Linked DNA regions of Homo sapiens: region 1 is linked to region 2. Evidence: fine-mapped expression QTL. A gene starts in region 2. The other region holds a variant in brackets. All regions are shown on one strand. Distances are between the middles of the regions. Region 1 holds the start of LOC124904557 (a long non-coding RNA gene). Region 2 holds the start of ARID4B (AT-rich interaction domain 4B).

What was found. PIP is the estimated chance that this variant, and not a neighbour inherited with it, causes the effect.
Region 1: its variant is fine-mapped to the expression of ARID4B in hippocampus (GTEx, PIP above 0.99).

Annotation. Positions count from the first base shown.
Region 1 is chr1:234,791,232-234,801,819 of GRCh38, reverse strand. LOC124904557 (a long non-coding RNA gene) reads left to right here and starts at 7,420. Exons shown (of 3, transcript XR_007066954.1): 1 at 7,420-8,088. The variant G/A (reference allele first, on the strand shown) is at 5,956.
Region 2 is chr1:235,323,408-235,333,995 of GRCh38, reverse strand. ARID4B (AT-rich interaction domain 4B) reads left to right here and starts at 5,817. Exons shown (of 24, transcript NM_016374.6): 1 at 5,817-6,227; 2 at 7,028-7,082. The coding sequence starts at 7,077. It overlaps GGPS1 (geranylgeranyl diphosphate synthase 1), which reads right to left and starts at 5,426. Exons shown (of 4, transcript NM_004837.4): 1 at 5,218-5,426. RefSeq lists enhancers at 4,627-4,776, 5,277-5,366, 5,607-5,666, 6,403-6,928, 6,947-7,136 and silencers at 6,147-6,196, 6,367-6,596, 6,607-6,696.

The DNA.
Region 1 (10,588 bases), 530 kb after region 2:
GACTAATTTCTGCAAGAAGAGTTTGAGCTTCAGTGTGGTGTGACTTCTGGACCTTTGAAAAGAGGGGTTTATTCCTTCCATTCTCCCACCTTTCTCTTCCTTCCTCCTTGTTGGAGTGTGGCTATCTTGGTGATGGTGAACCATCTTGGACCACATGGATGAGGGCCACACACTCAGGATGCTGGAGCAACAAGGTGGAAGGTACCTGGGTCTCGACTGCCCACCCTTGTGAAAGGTAAATGCAGTTCCATCTTATCTGAACCCTAGTATTTTGAGGTTCTGTTAGAATTGCTGCACCTGTATTCTAACTAATGCCTTCTTTAGGCTCTTTGACCCACTTGCCAGATTGCAGGTTGCAGGAAGACAGAACATGGTTTTGCTCACCATTAGGTCATCAGGGCTGGCACAGATTGCTCAACACATAATAAATACTTGTTGGAAGTGTTAATGAGTTATGGTTTTACTCTGGTATCTGGACTTCTGCTTTCCAAAGGATGAGTGGCCCTTGACGCATTGTTCCCTTGGGCAACTGCAGCCTCTGTCATGGGCCAAGTATGGAATGTCCCTGGGAAATAAAATCTCAGAGGAAGAGAGCTCCTGCCCAGCCGAAATTCTCCCTGGAATTGTGAGCCTCCAATTAGGCTAGAAGATACAGTCTTCCCATCTGTTGTAGAAACAGAAAGTTATTTAGAGTATAAAACAATCTCCCGGCTTCATGTGTGAAGCCTATTTGAGAGTCAGAGGGTTCCAGCAGAGGGAGGAGGATCATCAGCTACACCTGGAGCTCTGGGGATGAAAGAACCCATGAGGGCCTCATAGATTATAGGGCTCTGACTCCTCCAGGGAAAGATGATCCAGTGTTCTGGCCTATCTTGGCCTGTGGTTCTTTGTGATCCATGGAGTGAGAGTGTCCACAATCGCCTGCTGTGTGGTATTTCCCTGACTTGAGCCTTTGCTCATAACCAGCATAGCCCACAAACACCAGCCGTATCCCTCAATTCCTGACTTCTGCTTTCCCGTCTTTACAGAAGAACCCCAGCTGTGCTAATGGTCCTGTAACCTCTCAGCTCAGGGCCATGAGACCTTCTCTCTGCATGAATCTCGCCTCCTCTGCACCCCACACTTCCACACCACTTCCTCATAAAACGTGTTATCTGACTACACAACCCTGGAAATGATGTTCCTCCTGATGTGTTCCCAAGCATTCTTGCTATTCTGCTTCCTCTAGAAGCCAGGGAACTTTAGCTGACCAGGTCTGTGTCTTGGGCACCTGCCTTGGTGAGCGACCTCTGAGAATTTCTCACTAAACATTTGTTGAATGAACTAGGAGATATATAAGGGAATGCCTCTTCTGCCTACCATGAGCATGGCCTTAAGTGTTATCTTTGTTGCTTGGCCAAGTCAGGGCCTTGAGTCCCAAGTGAGGTGCCCAGCCCTTATTCCTGATCAATAAATACTTTTAGACTCCTGATTATTCTCTTGCTTGCTTGCTTGCTAATCTCTAATAGATTAGATCTATTCCCTAATCTAATTCTCTGATCTTCCTCCTGAAACTTGGCTCCATATTGAGTTCCTTGCCCTATATCCGTACTTGCACGGCCGCTATTTGCCACCCAGAGTCCCCGTGCTGGCAAATTCAACACCCGGAGCATTATCATTTTGGTGCAATTCCTGAGCACAGCTTGCTGACTCTTCGGTACTTATTGTTTCTATCTGGAATACAAGAGGGAGTATATTATGAGGATGATGGTAAACCCAGATCATGGTGCTCAGAGCAGATCTGAAACTCTGGCAGCGTAACACCTCTCTCCAGCATGGACAGATAAGGGTGATTATTATTTAGTTAGACTTTTCATTTTGAGAGAAATCGTAGGTTCACATGCAAATGTAAGAAATGATGTGGAGATCTATGTACCTTTTATACAGTTTCTCCCAAAGGTAATACCTTCAAAACTATTGTATGATTTCACAAACAGGACACTGACATTGATAGAGTCCAGATTCAGAACATGTCCGTCATCACCAAGGTCCCTCACGTTGCCCTTTTGTGGCCGCACCTGCGTCCTCTTACTCTCCCCATCTCTGCCCCATCTTTAACTCCTGACAACTACTAAACTGTTCTTTGTATAACTACTAAACTGTTCTTTGTATAACTACTAAACTGTTCTTTGTATAACTAAAGTTATAATTTTGTCATGTCAAGAATTTCATATGAATGGAATTACACAGCATGCAACCTTGACTTTTCTTACTCAGCACAACCGTCTGGAGGTTCACCCAGGTTGTGGCATGTGTCAATAGTTTTCTCTTTTGTTGCTGAGTAGTATTGCATGATAGAGATGTACTGCAGTTTGTTTAACCACTCACCTTCCACCTGAAGGGCAGCTGGTTTTTTCCACTTTGGGGGGATTACAAACAAAGCTGCTGCAGACATTCACATGTGGGTTTTTGTGTGAACCTAAGTTTTTTTTTTTTTTTTTTTTTCCTGGGATGAATGCTCAGGAGTGCATGCCAGGTTGCACAGGCCTTGCATGTTTAGTTTTATAAGAAACTGTCAGACTGTTTTCTAGAGTGATTGCACCATTTTACATTCTCACCAACAATGTATGAGGGATCCAGTTTCTCCATATCCTTGCCAGCATTTGTGGTTGTCACTCTTTTAGCCATTCAATAGTCATGTAATGATATCTCATTGTGGTTGTAATTTGTATTTTCCTAATGGCTAATGATTTTAAATTACCTCTTCATATGCTTATTTGCCACCTGTATATTTTCCTCTTCAGTTAAATATCTCTTCATGTCTTTTCTCATTTTTTCAAATTTAAAAATTCTTATTTATTTATTTTTTATTTTTTTTACTGTGGAGTTTTGAGAGTTCTTTCTATATTCTACATACTAGTCCTTTGTCAGATAGGCAGTTTGCAAATATTTTCTCCCAGTCTGTAGCTTGACTTTTCATCCTCTTAACAGGGTCTTTCATAGAGCAAATGTTTAACTTTGATGAAGTCTAATTTAACCATTTTTCCTCTTATGGCTCATGCTTTTGGCATCAAGTCTAAGAATTCCTTGCCTGGCCCTAGCTTTCAAATATTTTCTCTTTTTTTCTCTATAAGTTTTATCGTTTTATGTTTTACATATAAATCCATGATCAATTTGGAGTTAATTTCTGCATGAAGCGTGAGACTAGATTGAGGTTTATTTATTTATTTTTTGCTTATGAATATCGATTGCTTCCATACCATTTGTTGAAAAGGGTATCTTTCCTCCATTGAATTGCCTTTGTACCCTTATCTAAAGTCAGTTGGAAATTTTGCGTGGGCCTATTTCTATTAACTTCCACTGGTCTGTGTATCTATCCCTTCACTAATAGCATGTAGCCTTGATCACTGTAGCTATACAGTAAATCTTGACATTAGGTAGACTAATCTATCCCATTTCATTTTTCTTTTTCAAAATTGTTTTAGCTATTCTAGTTTCTCTGCCATTTTATATACATTTAGGATAATCTTGTCTAGATCTATGCAATAATATTGCTGGGATTTTGTTTGCAGTTATATTGACCCATATATCAAGATGGGGAGAATTGACATCTTTACTGTTGAGTCTTCTGATTCATGAATTTGTAATGCTTCTTCATGTATTTTAGCTCTTATTTGGTTTCTTTTGTAGGAATTTTAAGCACACAAGTACTGCACATATTTTGTTAGATTTACACCTACGTATTTCATTTCTCTTGAGTGACTGCAAATGGCATTGCATTTGTAATTTTGGTGTCCACTTGTTCATTGCAGTATACAGAAATAGAATTGAGTTCATGTGTTTATCTCTTATTCTGTAACATTGCTGAACTCATTAGTTCTAGGGTTTTTTTTTTTGGTTTGTTTTATAGATTCTTTGGGATTGTCTATGTTCACAATCATAGGGATGGTTTTATTTCTTCCTTTCCAAACTATCTGCTTTTATTTTATTTTCTTATTTTATTGCACTGGCAGAACTTCCAGTAGGAAGTTGAATAGGAGTGGTAGAGTGGTCATTCTTGCCTCTCCTTGATCTTACGTGGAAAGCATTCAGCCTTTCATCATCAAGTATAATGTTAGCTATAGGGTTTTATAGATGCTTTTTAGTAAGTTGAGGAAGTCCCCCTCTATTCCTATTTTTCTGAGAGGTTTTCTAATGAATGGGTGTTGAATTTTGTCAAATGGGGCAAGAGGGTGGTAATTCTTCATTATTCCTTACTGTAATTAGTCTGTCAATGTTAATGAGCATGCTATTATTAAGCACCTATTGGATGTTCAGTGTTGTGCTAGGCTCTGTGAGACATATAGGAACCTAAAAATTTGAGCCTTGCCCTCAAGCACTAAGGAAACACACTTTCTAAACCACAATTTAGCATATACCATAAGTGCTGCAGAAGGCCCCAGGCAGCGGAGGCCAGTGTTGCCCTGGCTAGAAGGTGTCACTTAGGTTGGCCTTTGGGCTGGAGTAGAACCTAGATACACAAGAGAGGGGAGTGAATTAGAGAAAATTCAACGGCCTAAAATTCTATTTTCTAACAAGGACAATGGTAAGTTGATAATTAGTAGGATAGAGATAGCTTTTGATTAATGAAGTTGGATTATCTCTATTCTGTGGATTATCCCTGACAAATGCTTAATCCTGAACTTCCTCCCTTTTTGAGCATTTGGGCTCTCTTTTCTGCCATCCGTCAACATGTTCAGGGGAATGCAAACTAATATTACTATTAGCTAAAGAAAAACATAATTAAGGAGGGCAATCTGCTGTCCCTAAATTGTATCATCTTTTCCAAACTAAATATGAGTGATATTGGTACTATCTTTTGTTTGGAGAGATCCACACCACTTCTCTCCCTCTTAAGGCTCAAGAAGAATTGACTGTGACCATGATATACACAATACATTTATTAAGCTGTCTCTCTAACAAGTTAGCTAAACACTTGGGAAGTAAGAGTAATGCCTTAGAGAATTTGGAACCCATGACATCTGATTCATTGGTATTGTCCATATTTGTACATGTTTACTCTAATATAAAGTAATAATATAATAGTGCTGTCATTTGCAAAATTAAAAATCCTGGCACATTACTCATGGGTCATGCTTTGGGTTGTCATTCTAACGGGTTTGATGGATTTGTATAGATCTGGTCCTCTATCTCACTTTGTCCTGCTGGTGACCAGTGGCTCCTCTTGGAGGCAGATGGCCAGGGTTAAGGGTGGAATCTGAGGCCGTGAGGGAGAGTGAAATTAACTGCTCCCTTCACAAGGGAATTGAACCCCTGACCTTCACCTCATTAGCACAGCACTCCAATGCAGCAATTCCTAACCTCAATTTTATATCACCCCAGGGTGTCTCCACTTATCTCAAGCGGGAGCTGCAGAATTCCTCCAACAAAATTAATTTTAATTCACCTTAATTTAAACATTAAATATGGACTATGAGGCAGCAACTTGCAGGAGTGGGGAAGAATGGCTGTTGTTAATAAATCCCACCACCACAATGCACTGTTATCCAAACACCCCAAAACACCCTCTCGAACCCACTGAGCCAAACAGTGTGGGGAGGAAGAAGTCTATAAGTAAGCAGCAGGCATGAAAGGCTTTTAAATTGCGGGGGAAGCAACACCCAACCCTACCAAACATCTGCATTTCATAGAGACTGTTTCATGTGGTCAGCTGGGGTGCACTCTGACATTCCCTGGGCCAGATGGACATATTTCAGCTCCCGTCCAGGCAGCCCATCCCTTTTTCCTCCTAGGGACTGTGATGCTTTGCATAGTCCCAGGAATTTGCTGCAGGAACATTTTGTGATTTACTAAGAAAATAAATTGGTCTTTGTTGCTGGGGCTTTCTCCTGGGTCAATACAAAAGATTCATCACCTCCATGCCGGCCCACGGAGAGGTTGGCTCAAAGGATTCTCTGGCCACTGGCTTATTCTGGA[G/A]ACAAGCAGAGTCCCAGCAGAACCTTTGCAGGGTAGGCCAGCAGCCTGAGTGTAAGGCAGGGGAAGTAACCGTAGGAATCAGTTATTGATGAACATCCTTAAAACTCTGATTGTTTGTTTGTTTGTTTGTTTGTTTTGAGATGAGTCTCACTCTGTCGCCCAGGCTGGAGTGCAGTGACGCGATCTCGGCTCACTGCAAGCTCCTCCTTCCAGGTTCACACCATTCTGCCACCTCAGCCTCCCGAGTAGCTGGGACTACAGGCGCCCGCCACCATGGCCAGCTAATTCTTTTTTGTGTTTTTAGTAGAGACTGGGTTTCACCGTGTTAGCCAGGATGGTCTTGATCTCCTGACCTCATGATCCACCGGCCTTGGCCTCCCAAAGTGCTGGGATTACAGGCGTGGGCCACCGCGCCCGGCCGAACATCCTTAAAACTCTTCATGGTCGTTTACTGATAACAACATCCACATGCATTTTTTAAAGGAGAATAAGCATAGTTCCTTACCCTGGCAGTGCACTTTATATAATTTGTCAAAGAGTTTCACATGCATTGTATCTCAATTGTTCTCTACCTACCCAGAATTACCAACTTCATTTTATTGAAGAGCAAATAGACTTGGAAAAGTTAAATGCCTTGCCCAAGGTCGCATAGCTAGTAAATCATGGTTGTAGCACCAGATCCCATGTCTTCTCATATACTGCACCCTTTTCTCTATACTAATCTTATCTTGGTTTATTATCAACATCCATTTGCTTTTGGCAGGGAAGGGTCCAGAATCTTCATTTTACAGAACAACGAATTGAGGTAAGTAAGCGTTTTGGGTCCTGCCTCTTTTTCTGCTGGCACCATGTGCCTTTCTTGCTGAAGGGCAAGGAGTTCTTTTGCAGGCACACTCATTTCTGCTCTCAGAGGCCAGGCTCTCAACCATCATCATCAGTGCCATCCTGCTCATTGGGCCCCACCCTGCCCTCTGTGTCCAGTGGGGGCTTGCATCTGTGATTTCTGGGCAGTGAGGGGGTCATACGTGAACAGTTCCTTCGCATCCTCTTAAAATTGCTCTTTCAGCTCCATAAGTTTCAACTAGTCAAAACACTCTCCTTCACACTTCTTCAAAGATGAGCATTTGTTCTACATATTTTTTTGTAGTCATATTCTGCGAGTGCACACTTTCCCTCTTGGGTCCTTAGACACACCCTTTTCCAGGCATGATTCACTTCCTCAAGCTCCATTCTGGATACATACATCTGGTGCCACCTGGAAGAGGGCTTATCAGGTCCTCCCACCTGGAATACAGCTTAACCAGAGTTGATTTCTAAGGCATGCAACCAAGAAACCAGACTGATATAAATGGGATATTATTGATTTTATCTGCCTAACCGAGTCTATAAATTTCTGAAAGCCATGGAAGGAACTCTATTTTGTTGCATTCCTCATAATATCTAGAACGGTGCTTTGCATATACTGAGTGCTCAAGGCATATTTGCAGATGGTGACGAGGATGATTTGATGTCGTTTTAAAGGCCGGACATCCAAGAGGAGGTCTGTTCTCTACATGTGCATGCACGTACACTTACACACACTCTCTGACTTGTAAGATGCCCTTTGCAAGAGTCCATTTGGGAAATGCAGTGGGCCCACTGGAAGAAATTCAAGGCCATGGGCCAGCTACACCACGGAAGCCCTACACCCAGCCAAACGTGCTCACTGGCAAGTCAAACCCAAAAGCTGTCATCAAATTCTGCTTCCTGGCAGCCCTGATCCAACAATACTCTGAAAGACAAAAGAAGCAGAAACTCAAGTGAAGATCACCAACGTGTCTTTTTGGGCAACTAGCAGATTGAGCAGAGGGTCAGCACAGACACCAGCAGAGAAGAACATTCTCCTGGCAGGACTCTGCCTCCAAATTCGGCACCACTTCACAGGATCTCAGCCTCACACCTTATGGGATTTATTTTTTTAAAAAAGATCCAACATTTGTTCCTAATTATTCTTAGTAAAACTGCCTTTCTTGATGTGGCACCCATTACCTCATTCATTCAGTCACTCATTCATTCATTCAATGAAACCCCTGTCATCCACGCTCTGGGCTCTTTCTACAGCCCCACGACATGATCAAGAACTCTGGAAAACAGGTAAGCCATTATCATCAGTGTATATGAAATTATCATCAGTGTATACGAAATATGAAGAAACCCAATTAGATGGAGATATCTCCTACCACACATTGAAATCAGAACTCAGACAAGACTCAGATGTTCTAACTCCAAATTCTGAGCAGTGGCCCCTGGATAAAGGATTATGGAGAAATACTGACCAGAAAAAATACTCTTAAATGGCATATTGTGGTGTTTTAAGGCAAGGTTATTGGTAGTGCTTGTAACTCTCAAAATACTGTTTTGGAAGTTTGTAGTGATTTTGCAGAACGGCTTTGAGTTACCTCTGGGTGTTATCAATCATTGGATAGTTTTCAAAAGAAATCCACCTTAATTTGAGTTAAATAATATGTCATTTAGCCAGATTTCCTCCTGCCCCCAATCCCCATAGGAGTGAGAAGCCATGGCTTGGGGCATTATCTCAGCATCATGGGAATTGCAGAGAGGGTACCACAGCTTTAGAGTTTGAGGTGTTGAGCCTGAACAAAAGGAAAGGGTAAGAAACTTGGGGTGGATAGAACGTGGAACTACTATGAAGAGCTTATTGCATAGAAAAAGAGAAATTTGAGTTAAAAAAAAAAAAATGGAAGAAAGTAAAGGGAGCCCAAATGGGAACAGTTACCAGAGGAGATTCCCTGGAATTTGAAGGAACCAGGTTGAAGGATGGTTTCCCAATTTGAATAATTATAAGAATCACCTGGTACTCTTTTTAAAACTATAAGTTCCTAGAGCCCCAGTCTTAGACATTGCATTTAGCGTGTCTGGGTTGAGGCCCAGAAATCTGTATTTTTAACAGAAACCCAGGTGATTTTTATAATCAGGAAAGATTTGGGCAATGTCTGCATTTGAAGATGCTGTCTCTCAAAATGAAGAAATACCTGGACAAAGCCAAGTCCAAGACAGGGGCTCTAAGTCAAAAAGGCAAGAGCAAAAACAACATGAGCCTTTACAAAATGTGAATTGGCAAAAAAGCAGCTGTAGCTCATATTTAATAACCTCCCATGGCTTCCAGAGAAGCAGCTGGGTCTGCAGAGTCCTGTTTGTGCACAGGATGAATGGAGTCTGTGTGCCACTCGGGATGCCCCCACAATACCCACATTATCACTGAGGTGCTCCAGCGAGGCATTCATTATGCACTCCCCTGCCACCCAAAGCCTCAGGTCAGGTTTGCCTTGGACACTCTCCCTTCTCCCTTCTCTGAGGCTGAGGGGCTGCAGGGGCGGGTGCCTGAACTCCCTCCCTCTCTCAGGGATGCCTCAGCTCTATGGGACTTCCTCTGGATCACATGATTGCATTTTCCTGCCTTGGGGCACCCTAAAGGCCTGCCTCTGGGAAGCAGGGTCTAGAGGCATGAGCTTGTCTGGACAACAGAAGCTCAATCTCAGCATCCTAAAGGCCTGCCTCTGGGAAGGGGGGGGTCACAGAGGCATGAACTTGTCTGGACAACAGAAGCTCAATCTCCATCTCCAAGCAGTTCGATCCCCCAACACTCTTGGCATTAGGAGGGGAGCCTCTGCAAGTGTGAGGACCGGGGGCCTCTAAACACGGTTTTTTTCTTTTTCTTTTTTTCTTGAGATGGAGTCTTGCTCTGTTGTCCAAGCTGGAGTGCAGTGGTACCATCTCCACTCACTGCAACCTCTGCCTCCTGGGTTCAAGAGATTTCTGGCTAATTTTTGTATTTTTAGTAGAGACGGGGTTTCACCATGTTGGCCAGGCTGGTCTCAAACTCCTGACCTCAAGTGATCTGCCCACCTCGGTCTCCCAAAGTGCTAGTATTAAAGGCGTGAGCCACCACACCAAGCCCTAAACACAGCCTGAGGCTGGTATCCCAGGAGGCCTTGAAAAATCTCAGGTTTGCTGCTGACAGGTGTGCCAGGAAGAGACCTGGCTGCTGTCTGCAAGTGGCCAAACCCTGATAATCCCGGAAATAAACAATAAAATAAACTCCTCAATGGTGATTATAAAGTACTATTGTTTATCAGCCAGGACCTGTGCTAAGCTTTTCACCTACATTATTTCATTTATATTTCAGAGCAATCCTTTGAAGCAGTCATGTTTATATCAGTTTTATGGATGAGGTCAGAGACTTCTGCTGGTTAAGTACCTTGCCACTATCACACAGCTAGCTAGTAAATAAACTTTAAAAAATTGAAGTATTATGTACATAAAGACAGGCATAGTGTACAACTAAGTGGGTTATCATAAAAGTGAACATACCTGTGTAACCATCCACCCAAATCAAGAGCTAGACTATTACCAGCCTCAGAAAAATCCCAGACCCTCTCCAATAACCTCCTCTTCCCCAATGGTGACCATTTTTGTCACCGAGTATTAGATGGCTAGTTTGTGAATTTTATAAAAACAGAATTCTACATTATATGTTCTTTTTGTCTGACTTTTTTCTCCACTCAGTATGACATCTGTAATGTTGATCTAATGTCATTCATGTACAAGTAGTTTGGTCATTTTTAACACTATA
Region 2 (10,588 bases):
TCTACTTTATTTCTTTGTATCTGTTTCTATTATTACTTGTCCTCATATTAGGAATCTAACTGCTCTAGCATCTTTGGCACATTTTGGGAAGTTTATTACTTTTATCCTCTTTCTTTTGCTTCTTGGGACTATGATTTAGTCTTTAGAATCCTGAGCCCACTTCTAACCAACTTTTCTACAACAAAAAGGCTAAATGTAATATGGCATCTAATGGCAGTTTGTGGTTAGGGCTGTTCAATGAGTTGCACATCATTGGATTTTGGAATTGGAAACCACTTTAGAAAGTTATCTCAGTATGCCAGAAGATAAAGCACAAGAATATATTTGCTTGAGTGAGGGCCACTTTCTTTTGAATGAAGAAAATGAAGTTCAGTTCATGTACTTTGTGTTATTCTGATTGCTCAAAGGTCCTTTTGTTTTTTTTTTTTGAGACGGAGTTTTGCTCGTTGCCCAGGCTGGAGTGCAGTGGCGCAATCTTGGCTCACTGCAACCTCCACCTCCCGGGTTCAAGTGATTCCCCTGCCTCAGCCTCCCGAATAGCAGGGATTACAGGTTCTTGCCACCACGCCCAGCTAATTTTTTGAATTTTTAGTAGAGATGGGGTTTCACTATGTTGGCCAGGCTGGTCTCAAAACTCCTGACCTCAGGCGATCCACCCGCCTCAGCCTCCCAAAGTGTTGGAATTGCAGGTGTTAGCTACTGTGCCCGGCCTGATCCTTTTTTTCTAAGTCTGGGCCAGAGACTTAGAAATCTTCAATTTAAATATGCATCTTGTATGATTCTGATACAGCTGCTTGAGAATGTTAGGGGAACTGGAAATAGGTTGCTTACATGGTATCACACCACATCACAACTAAGGGGGTGTGGGCTACTGTTATTTATTGTAACAGTGAGGATGTGTTCCTTTTTTTTTTTTTTTTTTTTTTTTGAGACGGAGTCTCACTCTGTCGCCCAGGCTGGAGTGCAGTGGCACGATCTCGGCTCACTGCAACCTCTGCCTCCTGGGCTCAAGCAATTCTCCTGACTCAGCCTTCTGAGTAGCTGGGACTACAGGTGCCCACCACCACGCCCAGCTAATTTTTGTATTTTAGTAGAGACGGGGTTTCACCAGTGTTCCTCGATTTCTAAATCAGCCCTAGTAACTTCATAATGTTAAGTAATAAAAGTCATCTTCTATAGCCCAGTCACCTGATACTATGATCTGATCATTGATACTCTCAGGGGTAAGGCAATTCTAGTACTGTAACTTCTTGCTGGCATTAAATTTAAAAATGTAAAATATACTTAGGAGCAGAATCTGACTTTTGTGGATTTATATTATAAATTAATCCACCAAAGACAAGACTTTTGCACATATTTCAGTAAATAAACACACTGATTCATATACATGCAGCCAAGCAAATCCAAAGATCCTGAGTAAATACCAACAACGTGCCACAAAAGTAAAATTTCCAAAATCTTGCACTATGTGTTTATTACAGCACTATTCACAATAGTAAAGATATGGAATCAACCTAAGTGTCCATCAGCAGATGACTGAATAAAGAAAATGTGGTATATATACAACGAATGATTACTCAGCCATTAAAACAAAATGAAATCATGTCATTTGCAGCAAAATGGATGGATAGCCCTTACCTTAAGTGTAACAAGTCAGACATAAAAGACAAATAGTACATCTTCTCAATTATAAATGGGAGCTAGATAATGTGTATACATGGACATGGAGTGTGGAATGATAGACAATGGAGATTCCAAAGGGTGAGAAGGTGGGAAGGAGGTGGATGATGAAAGATTACTTAATGGGTACAACGTGATTACATGGGTGATGGACCCCCTAAAAGTCCTGACTTCACTACAATGCAATCTATGCATGTGATAAAACTACACTTGCACCCCATAAATTTATACAAGTAAGAATAAACAAATAAAAAACCCTCCAAACCAAAATCTAATTATTAGTGCTAGCATTCCACTTTTCCAGCACAATTACGAGTGTAGAAGTGCTGAGACTACCCAATTTGGTGACAATCAGGTATTTAATGTTCCTGTTTTGTAGCAGTCAATGAATACAAGGGTAAAATGGTTTGAACCACATTGTCTCTGTCATGCAGTTGTTTTTCTGCTGTGAAATGAGACGTATAATATGGCAACAGGAGAAAAGAATAAAACTTCTACATATGTATGCACTGTTAGGCAGTTGGTAAGCACATGATAATGGGTGGCTGAAATAATAACACACACATATAACCATCAACTGTGCAAGTGCTTTGATGCTTCCCCATACTGTAAACCATCTCATGGGTCACAGAAACCTTTTGAGAATATGATGAAAGCTATGAATCTTCTAAAAAAAAAAAAAAAAGCCCGGTGTATGTGTTAATAAGTTGCAACACAAATGTATACACTGCCACAAAGACTTACAACATACAAATTCTCAGAGATCATATAGTCCCTGAATGTTTACACGTACCTCAGATTAAGATTCCCAGCTATGGAATATCTTTACCCTTTAATGCCAAGCAGACAAATATTCGTGTTTGTGTTATAACAAGCTAAGACATAAATTCCACTAGCTTAACTCTTTATTGAAGGCAGATTACAAATGAAAATTAAAGCACAAAACTAGTGTATAGTTCAGGTTACTCTTCAGGATTGAAAGGCATATTTTTTTGTAGTCTGTTCTTATCTATATGAAACAATCATAAAAAAGATCAGCACTCCACCAAAAGAAATCATTTTAACAACATGAATTCAAAGAGAAACATCCCATATGGAAAATTTCTACATCCATCTTGACTAACAATTAATACCAAAGACGTCGCAAGGAAAAAAAGGCTCATAAAGAATCAAGTAAGCGAAATAATCAACATACCTATTAGGCAAAAACCTATTTAGTTAGGTAACCTATTATGCAAATACCTATTTAGGTAACCTATTACCTATACTATTTGATCTCTGACACGTGACCTTATTATCAGGGATTGAAGTAAGAAAAGAAGATGCAAAACAGGAAGAATAATGGCTTAGCTAAAAGATTATTATCGAACATCATTAAAAGTAGAATTAAAAAAGGATCTCATATACTTCTCTATTTAAATGTTAGTATCTATCTTTTCTCAACTACAAGTTGGGAGCAAGAATCACGTTTGTATATTTTCTCACAGCCTCCAAAACACATTTGACCGAACTTAAAAATCAATGAGATGCACTTTCAGAATTCCCTTTTGTGTCAGGACCTGTAACAGGTGTACCCTGTTGCACAGAAATCAGAGCTAATCTTTGTTTCAATTCGTAGAGCTTTGTGGTTGATGTTATTTTTCAACTTAAAACACTAATTATGCTTTAAAAAATATTTCCTTTCCTCACTTAGAGATGTTTAAGAATACTCACTTAAGTCAATTTCCTGTCCCAGAGGATATTTACATACAAGCATTTTCAGTGGTATGAAAACATAAGAACTTCAATTTTTCCAGGTATCGACAACCAACTTGCCTTGTGTCTTTCTTCTGAAACAGCGTCTCACTCTGTCGCCCAGGCTGGAGTGCAGTGGCGTGATCTCGTCTCACTGCAAACTCCGCCTCCCGGGTTCACGCCATTCTCCTGCCTCAGCCTCCCGAGTAGCTGGGACTACAGGCGCCCGCCACCTTGCCCGGCTAATTTTTTTGTATTTTTAGTAGAGACGGGCTTTCACCGTGTTAGCCAGGATGGTCTCGATCTCCTGACCTCGTGATCCGCCCGCCTCGGCCTCCCAAAGTGCTGGGATTACAAGCGTGAGCCACCACGCCCAGCCGCCTTGTGTCTTCTTAAGAGTCTAAAGGATTCTACACACCGTGGCATATACTCTCACCCTCACCCGCCTTTGTTTTTCTTTTAAATCAAAGGATTTCCCAATTTATCACAGCTGGAAATTTCAGCTATCACATACTAAAGTTAAATGTAAAGAGGCATTAGTGTGTGTTACATGAACTCTACTAGTTTCCTTTTAGAGTGAAAAAACTACAGAATACCTCAGTGAGAGTCTGAAACTTCTCACTTTCAAAACTAAAAAGCTGCCAGAAATTTGTTCAAAGAGTGAATCCATAATCATTAATACAAACGCTCCATTCTTTTCACCATGTGAACTACTACGGCAATAGCCTCCTCGTCGGGTTCCCTGCATTTGCCTCTTTAACTCTTCTTTTTTTCGCTTCCTCTACTCTTCAGCCAGGGATGACATTCCAATCGGAGCCATCTCTCCCTTTTGATTGAGATTCCTTGGAAGATATCCCATTGCTATTAGGAGAAAACCAAAACTCCTTTACAAAGCCTAAAAGGTTCGACACTCCCCCTCATCCCATCTCTCCAGGCTCAGTTCTTCATATTGGAAAAGCTCCCTTCCGCCACAGGGCTTTCTGACAAGTTAGTCTTTTTGTCTGGAATGTCTTTTCCTTTTCTCTTTCCTTAGTTAACTCCTGCTAGCCCTTCAGCTCTCAGCTCGATCCTCACTTGCTCAGAAACCCTTCCTTTCCCTCCCTAAAGAAGCCAAATTCCCTCATTCTCCTATCACCGTGGAACTCTCCTCTGGGGCACTGCCACTGCGGTAATTTCACATCGTTTTGTTCAGCATCTGTCCGTCTCACCAGGCGCAGGTCTACGAAGGCAGAGGCCACCCCAGTGGTCGGCGCTCAACACCCATGAAGAAATGAAAGCGCCTTCTAACGCGTTAGACGATGAAACCAGGGCACACAACCTTGCGTCTAAGAAGTGAACATCCCATGCAAAAGACTTTTCAAAGGGAAGGGCCTGGTTTGAGAATGGCCAGAGACATACAAATGTGAAGCGCATACTGAATCCTTCCATTCATACTCCGGGAGAAAGACGATGGATCTGAAAGAAGCCGCCTGATATAAACAGGGAATTTCAATCACTTCGAGGCCGATTTTCCACAGCGGCTGGGCAGAGAACTGCAAACGTATACAGTGCTAGCACAGAGTCCGGAGGGGAAGAAACGGTGAGGTTTCTGCTTCCTCCTCGCTCAGATGCTCCCTTCCGCCCCACTTGGCCAACCCTTCCTCTCCCTCCTCGCTTAAAGCTAGGGGATGGAAAATTCATACACAATCCGGTTCAGCATCCGGGTCCTCACTCTCCTTTCTTTCTTTCCTCTGCCCCGCCTCCCAGCCTCCCCCGCCCTTCTTCCCATCCGGGTTCCCCCCAGCCGCCGCCACTGCCGCTCACAGTTCAACGATGATATCACGACTTTCACGCCGCCGGTCCGGGAGTAACTGTACCCCGCATCAACTTCCTATTTTATAATGTGGACTTAGGCTCTTCCCGATGCCTACATGAATCCTTCCCACTATTTCACCACAGAACTCTCCGCCCTCCTCAGCCGCCAGCGACACCGCATTAGTTGGTGCAAGAAAATGCGCCATCCCGGTCACACTGCGCAGGCGTCGTTGCCGCCTCCCTACTGCTTTGTTGCCCCGCCCCTTTCACCTCCCCCCCGCCCCCGCACCGGTCCACGCAGGCGCAGGGCATTGCGGGCCTTGCAGTTCTCGCGGACGAGGATTTGCGCGTTGGCCCCAGAGTATGGACTTTATTTCCCAGAAAGCCTTGAGGCGTAACTTTCTGTTTCCATAGAACTGGTGGGAAAATGGCGTCGTTGTTTGTATCCAGGGACCAATAGGAACAGTGTATAGGCGGGTTCTAAAGAACTTTAACCAATCCAAGGTCGTCTAAGAGGCCATCCGGGAAAGAGGTAGGGGAGGGGGGGAAAAAAAATCTAGGGGAGGGGAGAAAGGGGGGGAACCTAGAGTCGGTGGGGGGGAAGCGATGTTTGCCCGTCAGTCGAGTCCGGAGTGAGGAGCTCGGTCGCCGAAGCGGAGGGAGACTCTTGAGCTTCATCTTGCCGCCGCCACGGCCACCGCCTGGACCTTTGCCCGGAGGGAGCTGCAGAGGGTCCATCGCCGCCGTCCTCTGGAGGGCAGCGCGATTGGGGGCCCGGACCTCCAGTCCGGGGGGGATTTTTCGTCGTCCCCCTCCCCCCAACCAGGGAGCCCGAGCGGCCGCCAAACAAAGGTACCAGTCGCCGCCGCGGGAGGAGGAGGAGCCGGAGCCTCTGCCTCAGCAGCCGCTGGACCCGCCGCCCTTCTTCCCCATCTCTCCCCCGGGCCTGCTGGTTTTGGGGGGGAGAAGGAGAGAGGGGACTCTGGACGTGCCAGGGTCAGATCTCGCCTCCGAGGAAGGTAGGGATATTTTCTGGGGCTTTCGTGGTCTCCTAAGGGGGTTCTTTTGGGAGTCGCTGGGCCCGGCCAAGGAGCAGAGGAAGATCGCGGTGGTGGTCCCTGCGGCGCCCGAATTCGGGGCCTCGGCCTCCCGGGAACCCCCACCCCCCGCAGCCGCTGTGTCCGAGCCGCCCCCTGGCTGGGCGGCCGCACACTCAGCGGTTTAGCGGCCGCGGTCGGGGGCCCGGGCAGGGTGGGGGCCGTTCCGCCTCCGGGGCCCTCGGCCCTCACGTTGTCCCCGCGGCGGGGCCAGATGTTGATCTCGCTCCCACTTGTCGGGTCTGAGCCCGGAACGGGACGTGGGCAGGGGCTCTGTGGCGGGCCGGTCCTGCCCGCGGCCCACAGGCCCTCCTGGCCCCTCGGTGGCCCCCGGCCGGCCTCTCGCTCGGACGCGGCGCGTGGGGGCGCGGATTCGCTCGGCCGGGCGCCGAGGCCCTAGGGGAGAGCGGCCGGCCCTGCGCCGGACGCCGGGCTTGTTGTGAGTTTCTTCTCTGACAGAAATGGCGTCATTGTCGTAGACGGGAAACTCCGTCGGGTCTCGACAATGGGGACGGGAAGCTGCCGAGCTGTGTAGGTGGTTGGGTTTGCGGGGATGGCGGGGCCGGAGGGAGCCCCGAGTCGGCGTGTGATGGTTCGGGGGCTGGCGCCTGGTTGCGGCTCTTTCTTCGGGGTTCGGACGTCGCTCGCTTCTTTCCCTCCGCCTCCGCCAGTGCAGAGGGGCTCCTGTGGTGTTGACTGGGTGTCTTTTGTTTCCCCTCCAGGTGCAGCTGAACCTGGTGTTTTAGAGGATACCTTGGTCCCAGAGTCATCATGAAGGTAAGATTGCCTGCGGAAAACGAATCTCTGGGGTTATCGAATTCAGGAAGTAGGAGGTTTCGACGAGGTCGTCGTGTGGGGCTTCCGAGTTTTGCAGAGGAAGGTGTGTTTGGTGACTTGGTGACCGAGCCCTTCCCCAGAGAGACCGGGGTCAGCTGGCGGGCTTTGCTGTGGAGTTGGAGGCAGTTATAGGATGTCTCAACTGAAGATGATTCTCCCATATTGAACATCTCTTTTTGTAGGGAATGAGAGGAATAACGGCATGAATTAAAGTGTTTTAAAAGGTAAAATAAAAAGCAAGTCAGGTAATCTGACCCTAGAAACTGAACTGTATTGTGGTTCTATCAGTTACACTGATGAAAGAGAATCTTATTTATTGTGTGAACAGTACTGTAAAATTTTAGCAGAAAACTCTTTGACTCGTCACAAAAATAATTTAATTGAAAGATTTAAAAAGAGAATTTTTGTGATTTTTTACACAATTCAGAGATACCAGTTGTTTCTTGTATTTCCAGTGACTTGGGGTTATATGGTTTATTTTTCTTTATTGATCTGGTTGGTCTGTAAATAAGTCAGAGGCTCTGTTGCATTATGATGTGTGGAAAACTGATGGCCAGGTTCCTCTTAGATGTCAATATGTTAACTGAGTGGAGAATAGGGTCAAAAAATTTGCTTAATTGTTGGAAGAAATGATAACGATAAAAATACAGGTATTTTTGTTACTTGAGAGAATATGTATATGAATGCTGTCTTTTTTTTTTTTAAACACATGCTAGAATAAAACCTTAGATTTTTGAAAAGTCTGGATTCAACTGGTGGAACTTAGACACTAGCTTGTATTTTTTCATCCATTACAAATTCAGAAGTGCTTGAAAAGGGTAGAGTGTTCACAAGTGTAGAAATGCAACAGATAGCATGTTAGAATATCAACGTTGTCTACTTTTGACAGTTCCTTTGAACTATTTAAAAAAATATTTCACTTGTCCTCAGAATCAAGACTGCTTTGACAATTTTGCATCCAAATTAAAATTTGTAATACTTGTGGTTGTAGAAGGTAAAAGCTGTGGCTACTTAAATCTTGGTCTACTATACAGAGTAATTAAGTTTAGTCTAATTTTTTTAAGGTTTTCTCTTTGAGTTTGGGATGCTGTAAACTACCTGAAACAGTTTATTCCTATCTCATTTCATGAAGCATAGACATGTTTCAGGAATGAATCCCTTTTGTTAGTCACAAATCCTAGCTATAACTCTCATCACCTGTGTAAAACAGTGGTGAAAGTGCATTTATTAGGTAACTCGTATATGTACCTTGATGTTGGGTGAGAATTTCTTAAGAAAAGTTTTGGTTTGAGTAAGAAATAATAAGTTCAGAAGCCGAATAAATAAAAGGTTTAGTTTGGAGTAAATGTAATGTGTCACATTTCCCAGTGTTGTAGTGCTTGTCACTTCTTAGGTGCTCTATAAATGTTTGGTTAAAAGAAATGTAGTTAAGTTGAAAGTCTGAGATTAAAATGTTTTTTTTCTTCCTTTCGTTTCCTTTTTTTTTTTAAGTAGTCTGTTTAAAAAAATGAAAGTATGTTGGAAACTTTAGCCTTAAAAGTTTCTTGGTAATACTAGCCAAATGCAAATTTTTTGGTATCTTTTTAGAAATACTAATTTTAAGTGCTCAGCATTACATTCTACTGCATTTTTTAAAAAGGTGCTTTTAACGTTAAAAGGAAAAAGTTACTAAAATAAATTTCTAACTTCATACAAGTACTTCCTGTTATTATAAGTATAGCAAATCTCAGAGAATTTGCTAGTAATTATTAGTACTAAAAACTTAGCTTATTTCTTACAACTTTATTTCTTATGTGATAAAAGATGAGAAGCTTCTTGTAATTTGTATTTTGCTTTAGCAAAAATTGCAATTCAGAATCTATTTAATGTTGAGTGTATTAGGCCTAAATTTTGTTTCTTTTTCTGTGTGTTCCCAATTTCTTTCGTTCTTTTTTATTTTTCTTTTTGATATAGAGTCTCACTATTTCACCCTGGCTGGCACGATCTGTAACTGCTGCCTCCTGGGCTCAAATAATCCTCCCACCTCAGCCTCCTGAGTAGCTGGGACTACAGGCACACCTGGCTAATTTTTGTAGTTTTTGTAGAGATGAGGTTTTGCCGTGTTGCCCAGGCTGGTGTCGAACTTCTGGGCTCAGGTGACTCTCCCGCCTTAGCCTCCCAAAGTGCTGGGATTACAGGCGAGAGTCACCGTGCCTGGTGTAATTTCTGTATTACGATGATCATTGAGCTACAGAAGGTTTTATGCCATTTATTGGATCTTACCAAACATATTTGTACTTGGGAGCAAGCTTTTAAGTTTGAATTGTCTGTTGTATTAACGACAACAAATCTTTAAATTTTATTAAGTGACAGTTTATTGAGGTGATTGAAAGTTAGATTATGTAGTAATACTTTTTAGGTGTTGTTTTAAAGTTGAAGTGTTGTATGTTTTAGCAGTTTTCCCATGTACTACCTTTAAGAATTTATGTAAACAAATACATTCCCATTACTGTCTAATATATGCTATGTTACTTTTTTCACAGTATGTTTTTGAGGAATATGATTCGTAATACATAAGGAATTTGTGCTGTAACATAGATCGTGATGTTGGTGTTATGTTGAATTTATTTTTCATGCTCTTGATAGACTTTTAAAAATCAGTGGTGCCGGCTGGGCATGGTGGCTCACGCCTGTAATCACAGCACTTTGGGAGGCCGAGGTAGGAGGATCACCTGAGGTCAAGGGAGTTTGAGACCAGCCTGGCCAGCGTAGTAAAACCCTGTCTCTTCTAAAAATACAAAATTAGCTGGGCATGGTGGCACACACCTGTAATCCCAGCTATTCGGAAGGCTGAGGCAGGAGAACTGCTTGAACCCAGGAGGCGGAGGTTGCAGTGAGCTGAGGTTGCGCCACTGAACTCCAGCCTCGGCGAAAAAAGTGAAACTCTCTCTCTCAAAAAAAAAAAAACTAAATAAAATAAAATAAAAATCAGCAGTACCACATTATAAGGAGGTGGTAGATTATTAAAGTTTGTAAATAATTCCAAGACTTATTTTTATTATGTCAGGTTGATTTTTACTTTTTTTTTTTAAGACGGACTTTTGCTCTTGTTGCCCAGGCCGGAGTGCAGTGGTGCGATCTCGGCTCACTGCAACCTCTGCCTCCCAGGTTCAAGCAGTTCTCCTGCCTCAGCCTCCTGAGTAACTGGAATTATAGGCATGCACCATCATGCCGGGCTAATTTTGTGCTTTTAGTAGAGACAAGGTTTCTCCATATTGGTCAGGCTGGTCTCGAACTCCTGACCTCAGGTGATCTGCCCGCCTCGGCCTCCCAAAGTGCTGGGATTACAGGCGTGAGCCACTGCGCCCGGCCGATTTTTACTTTTTTTAAACTCAAACTTTTTTTTCCTGTATCTATATTGTACATGTTATTAACGTCTTTTATTACGTAGCAGTAAATTTTCAATT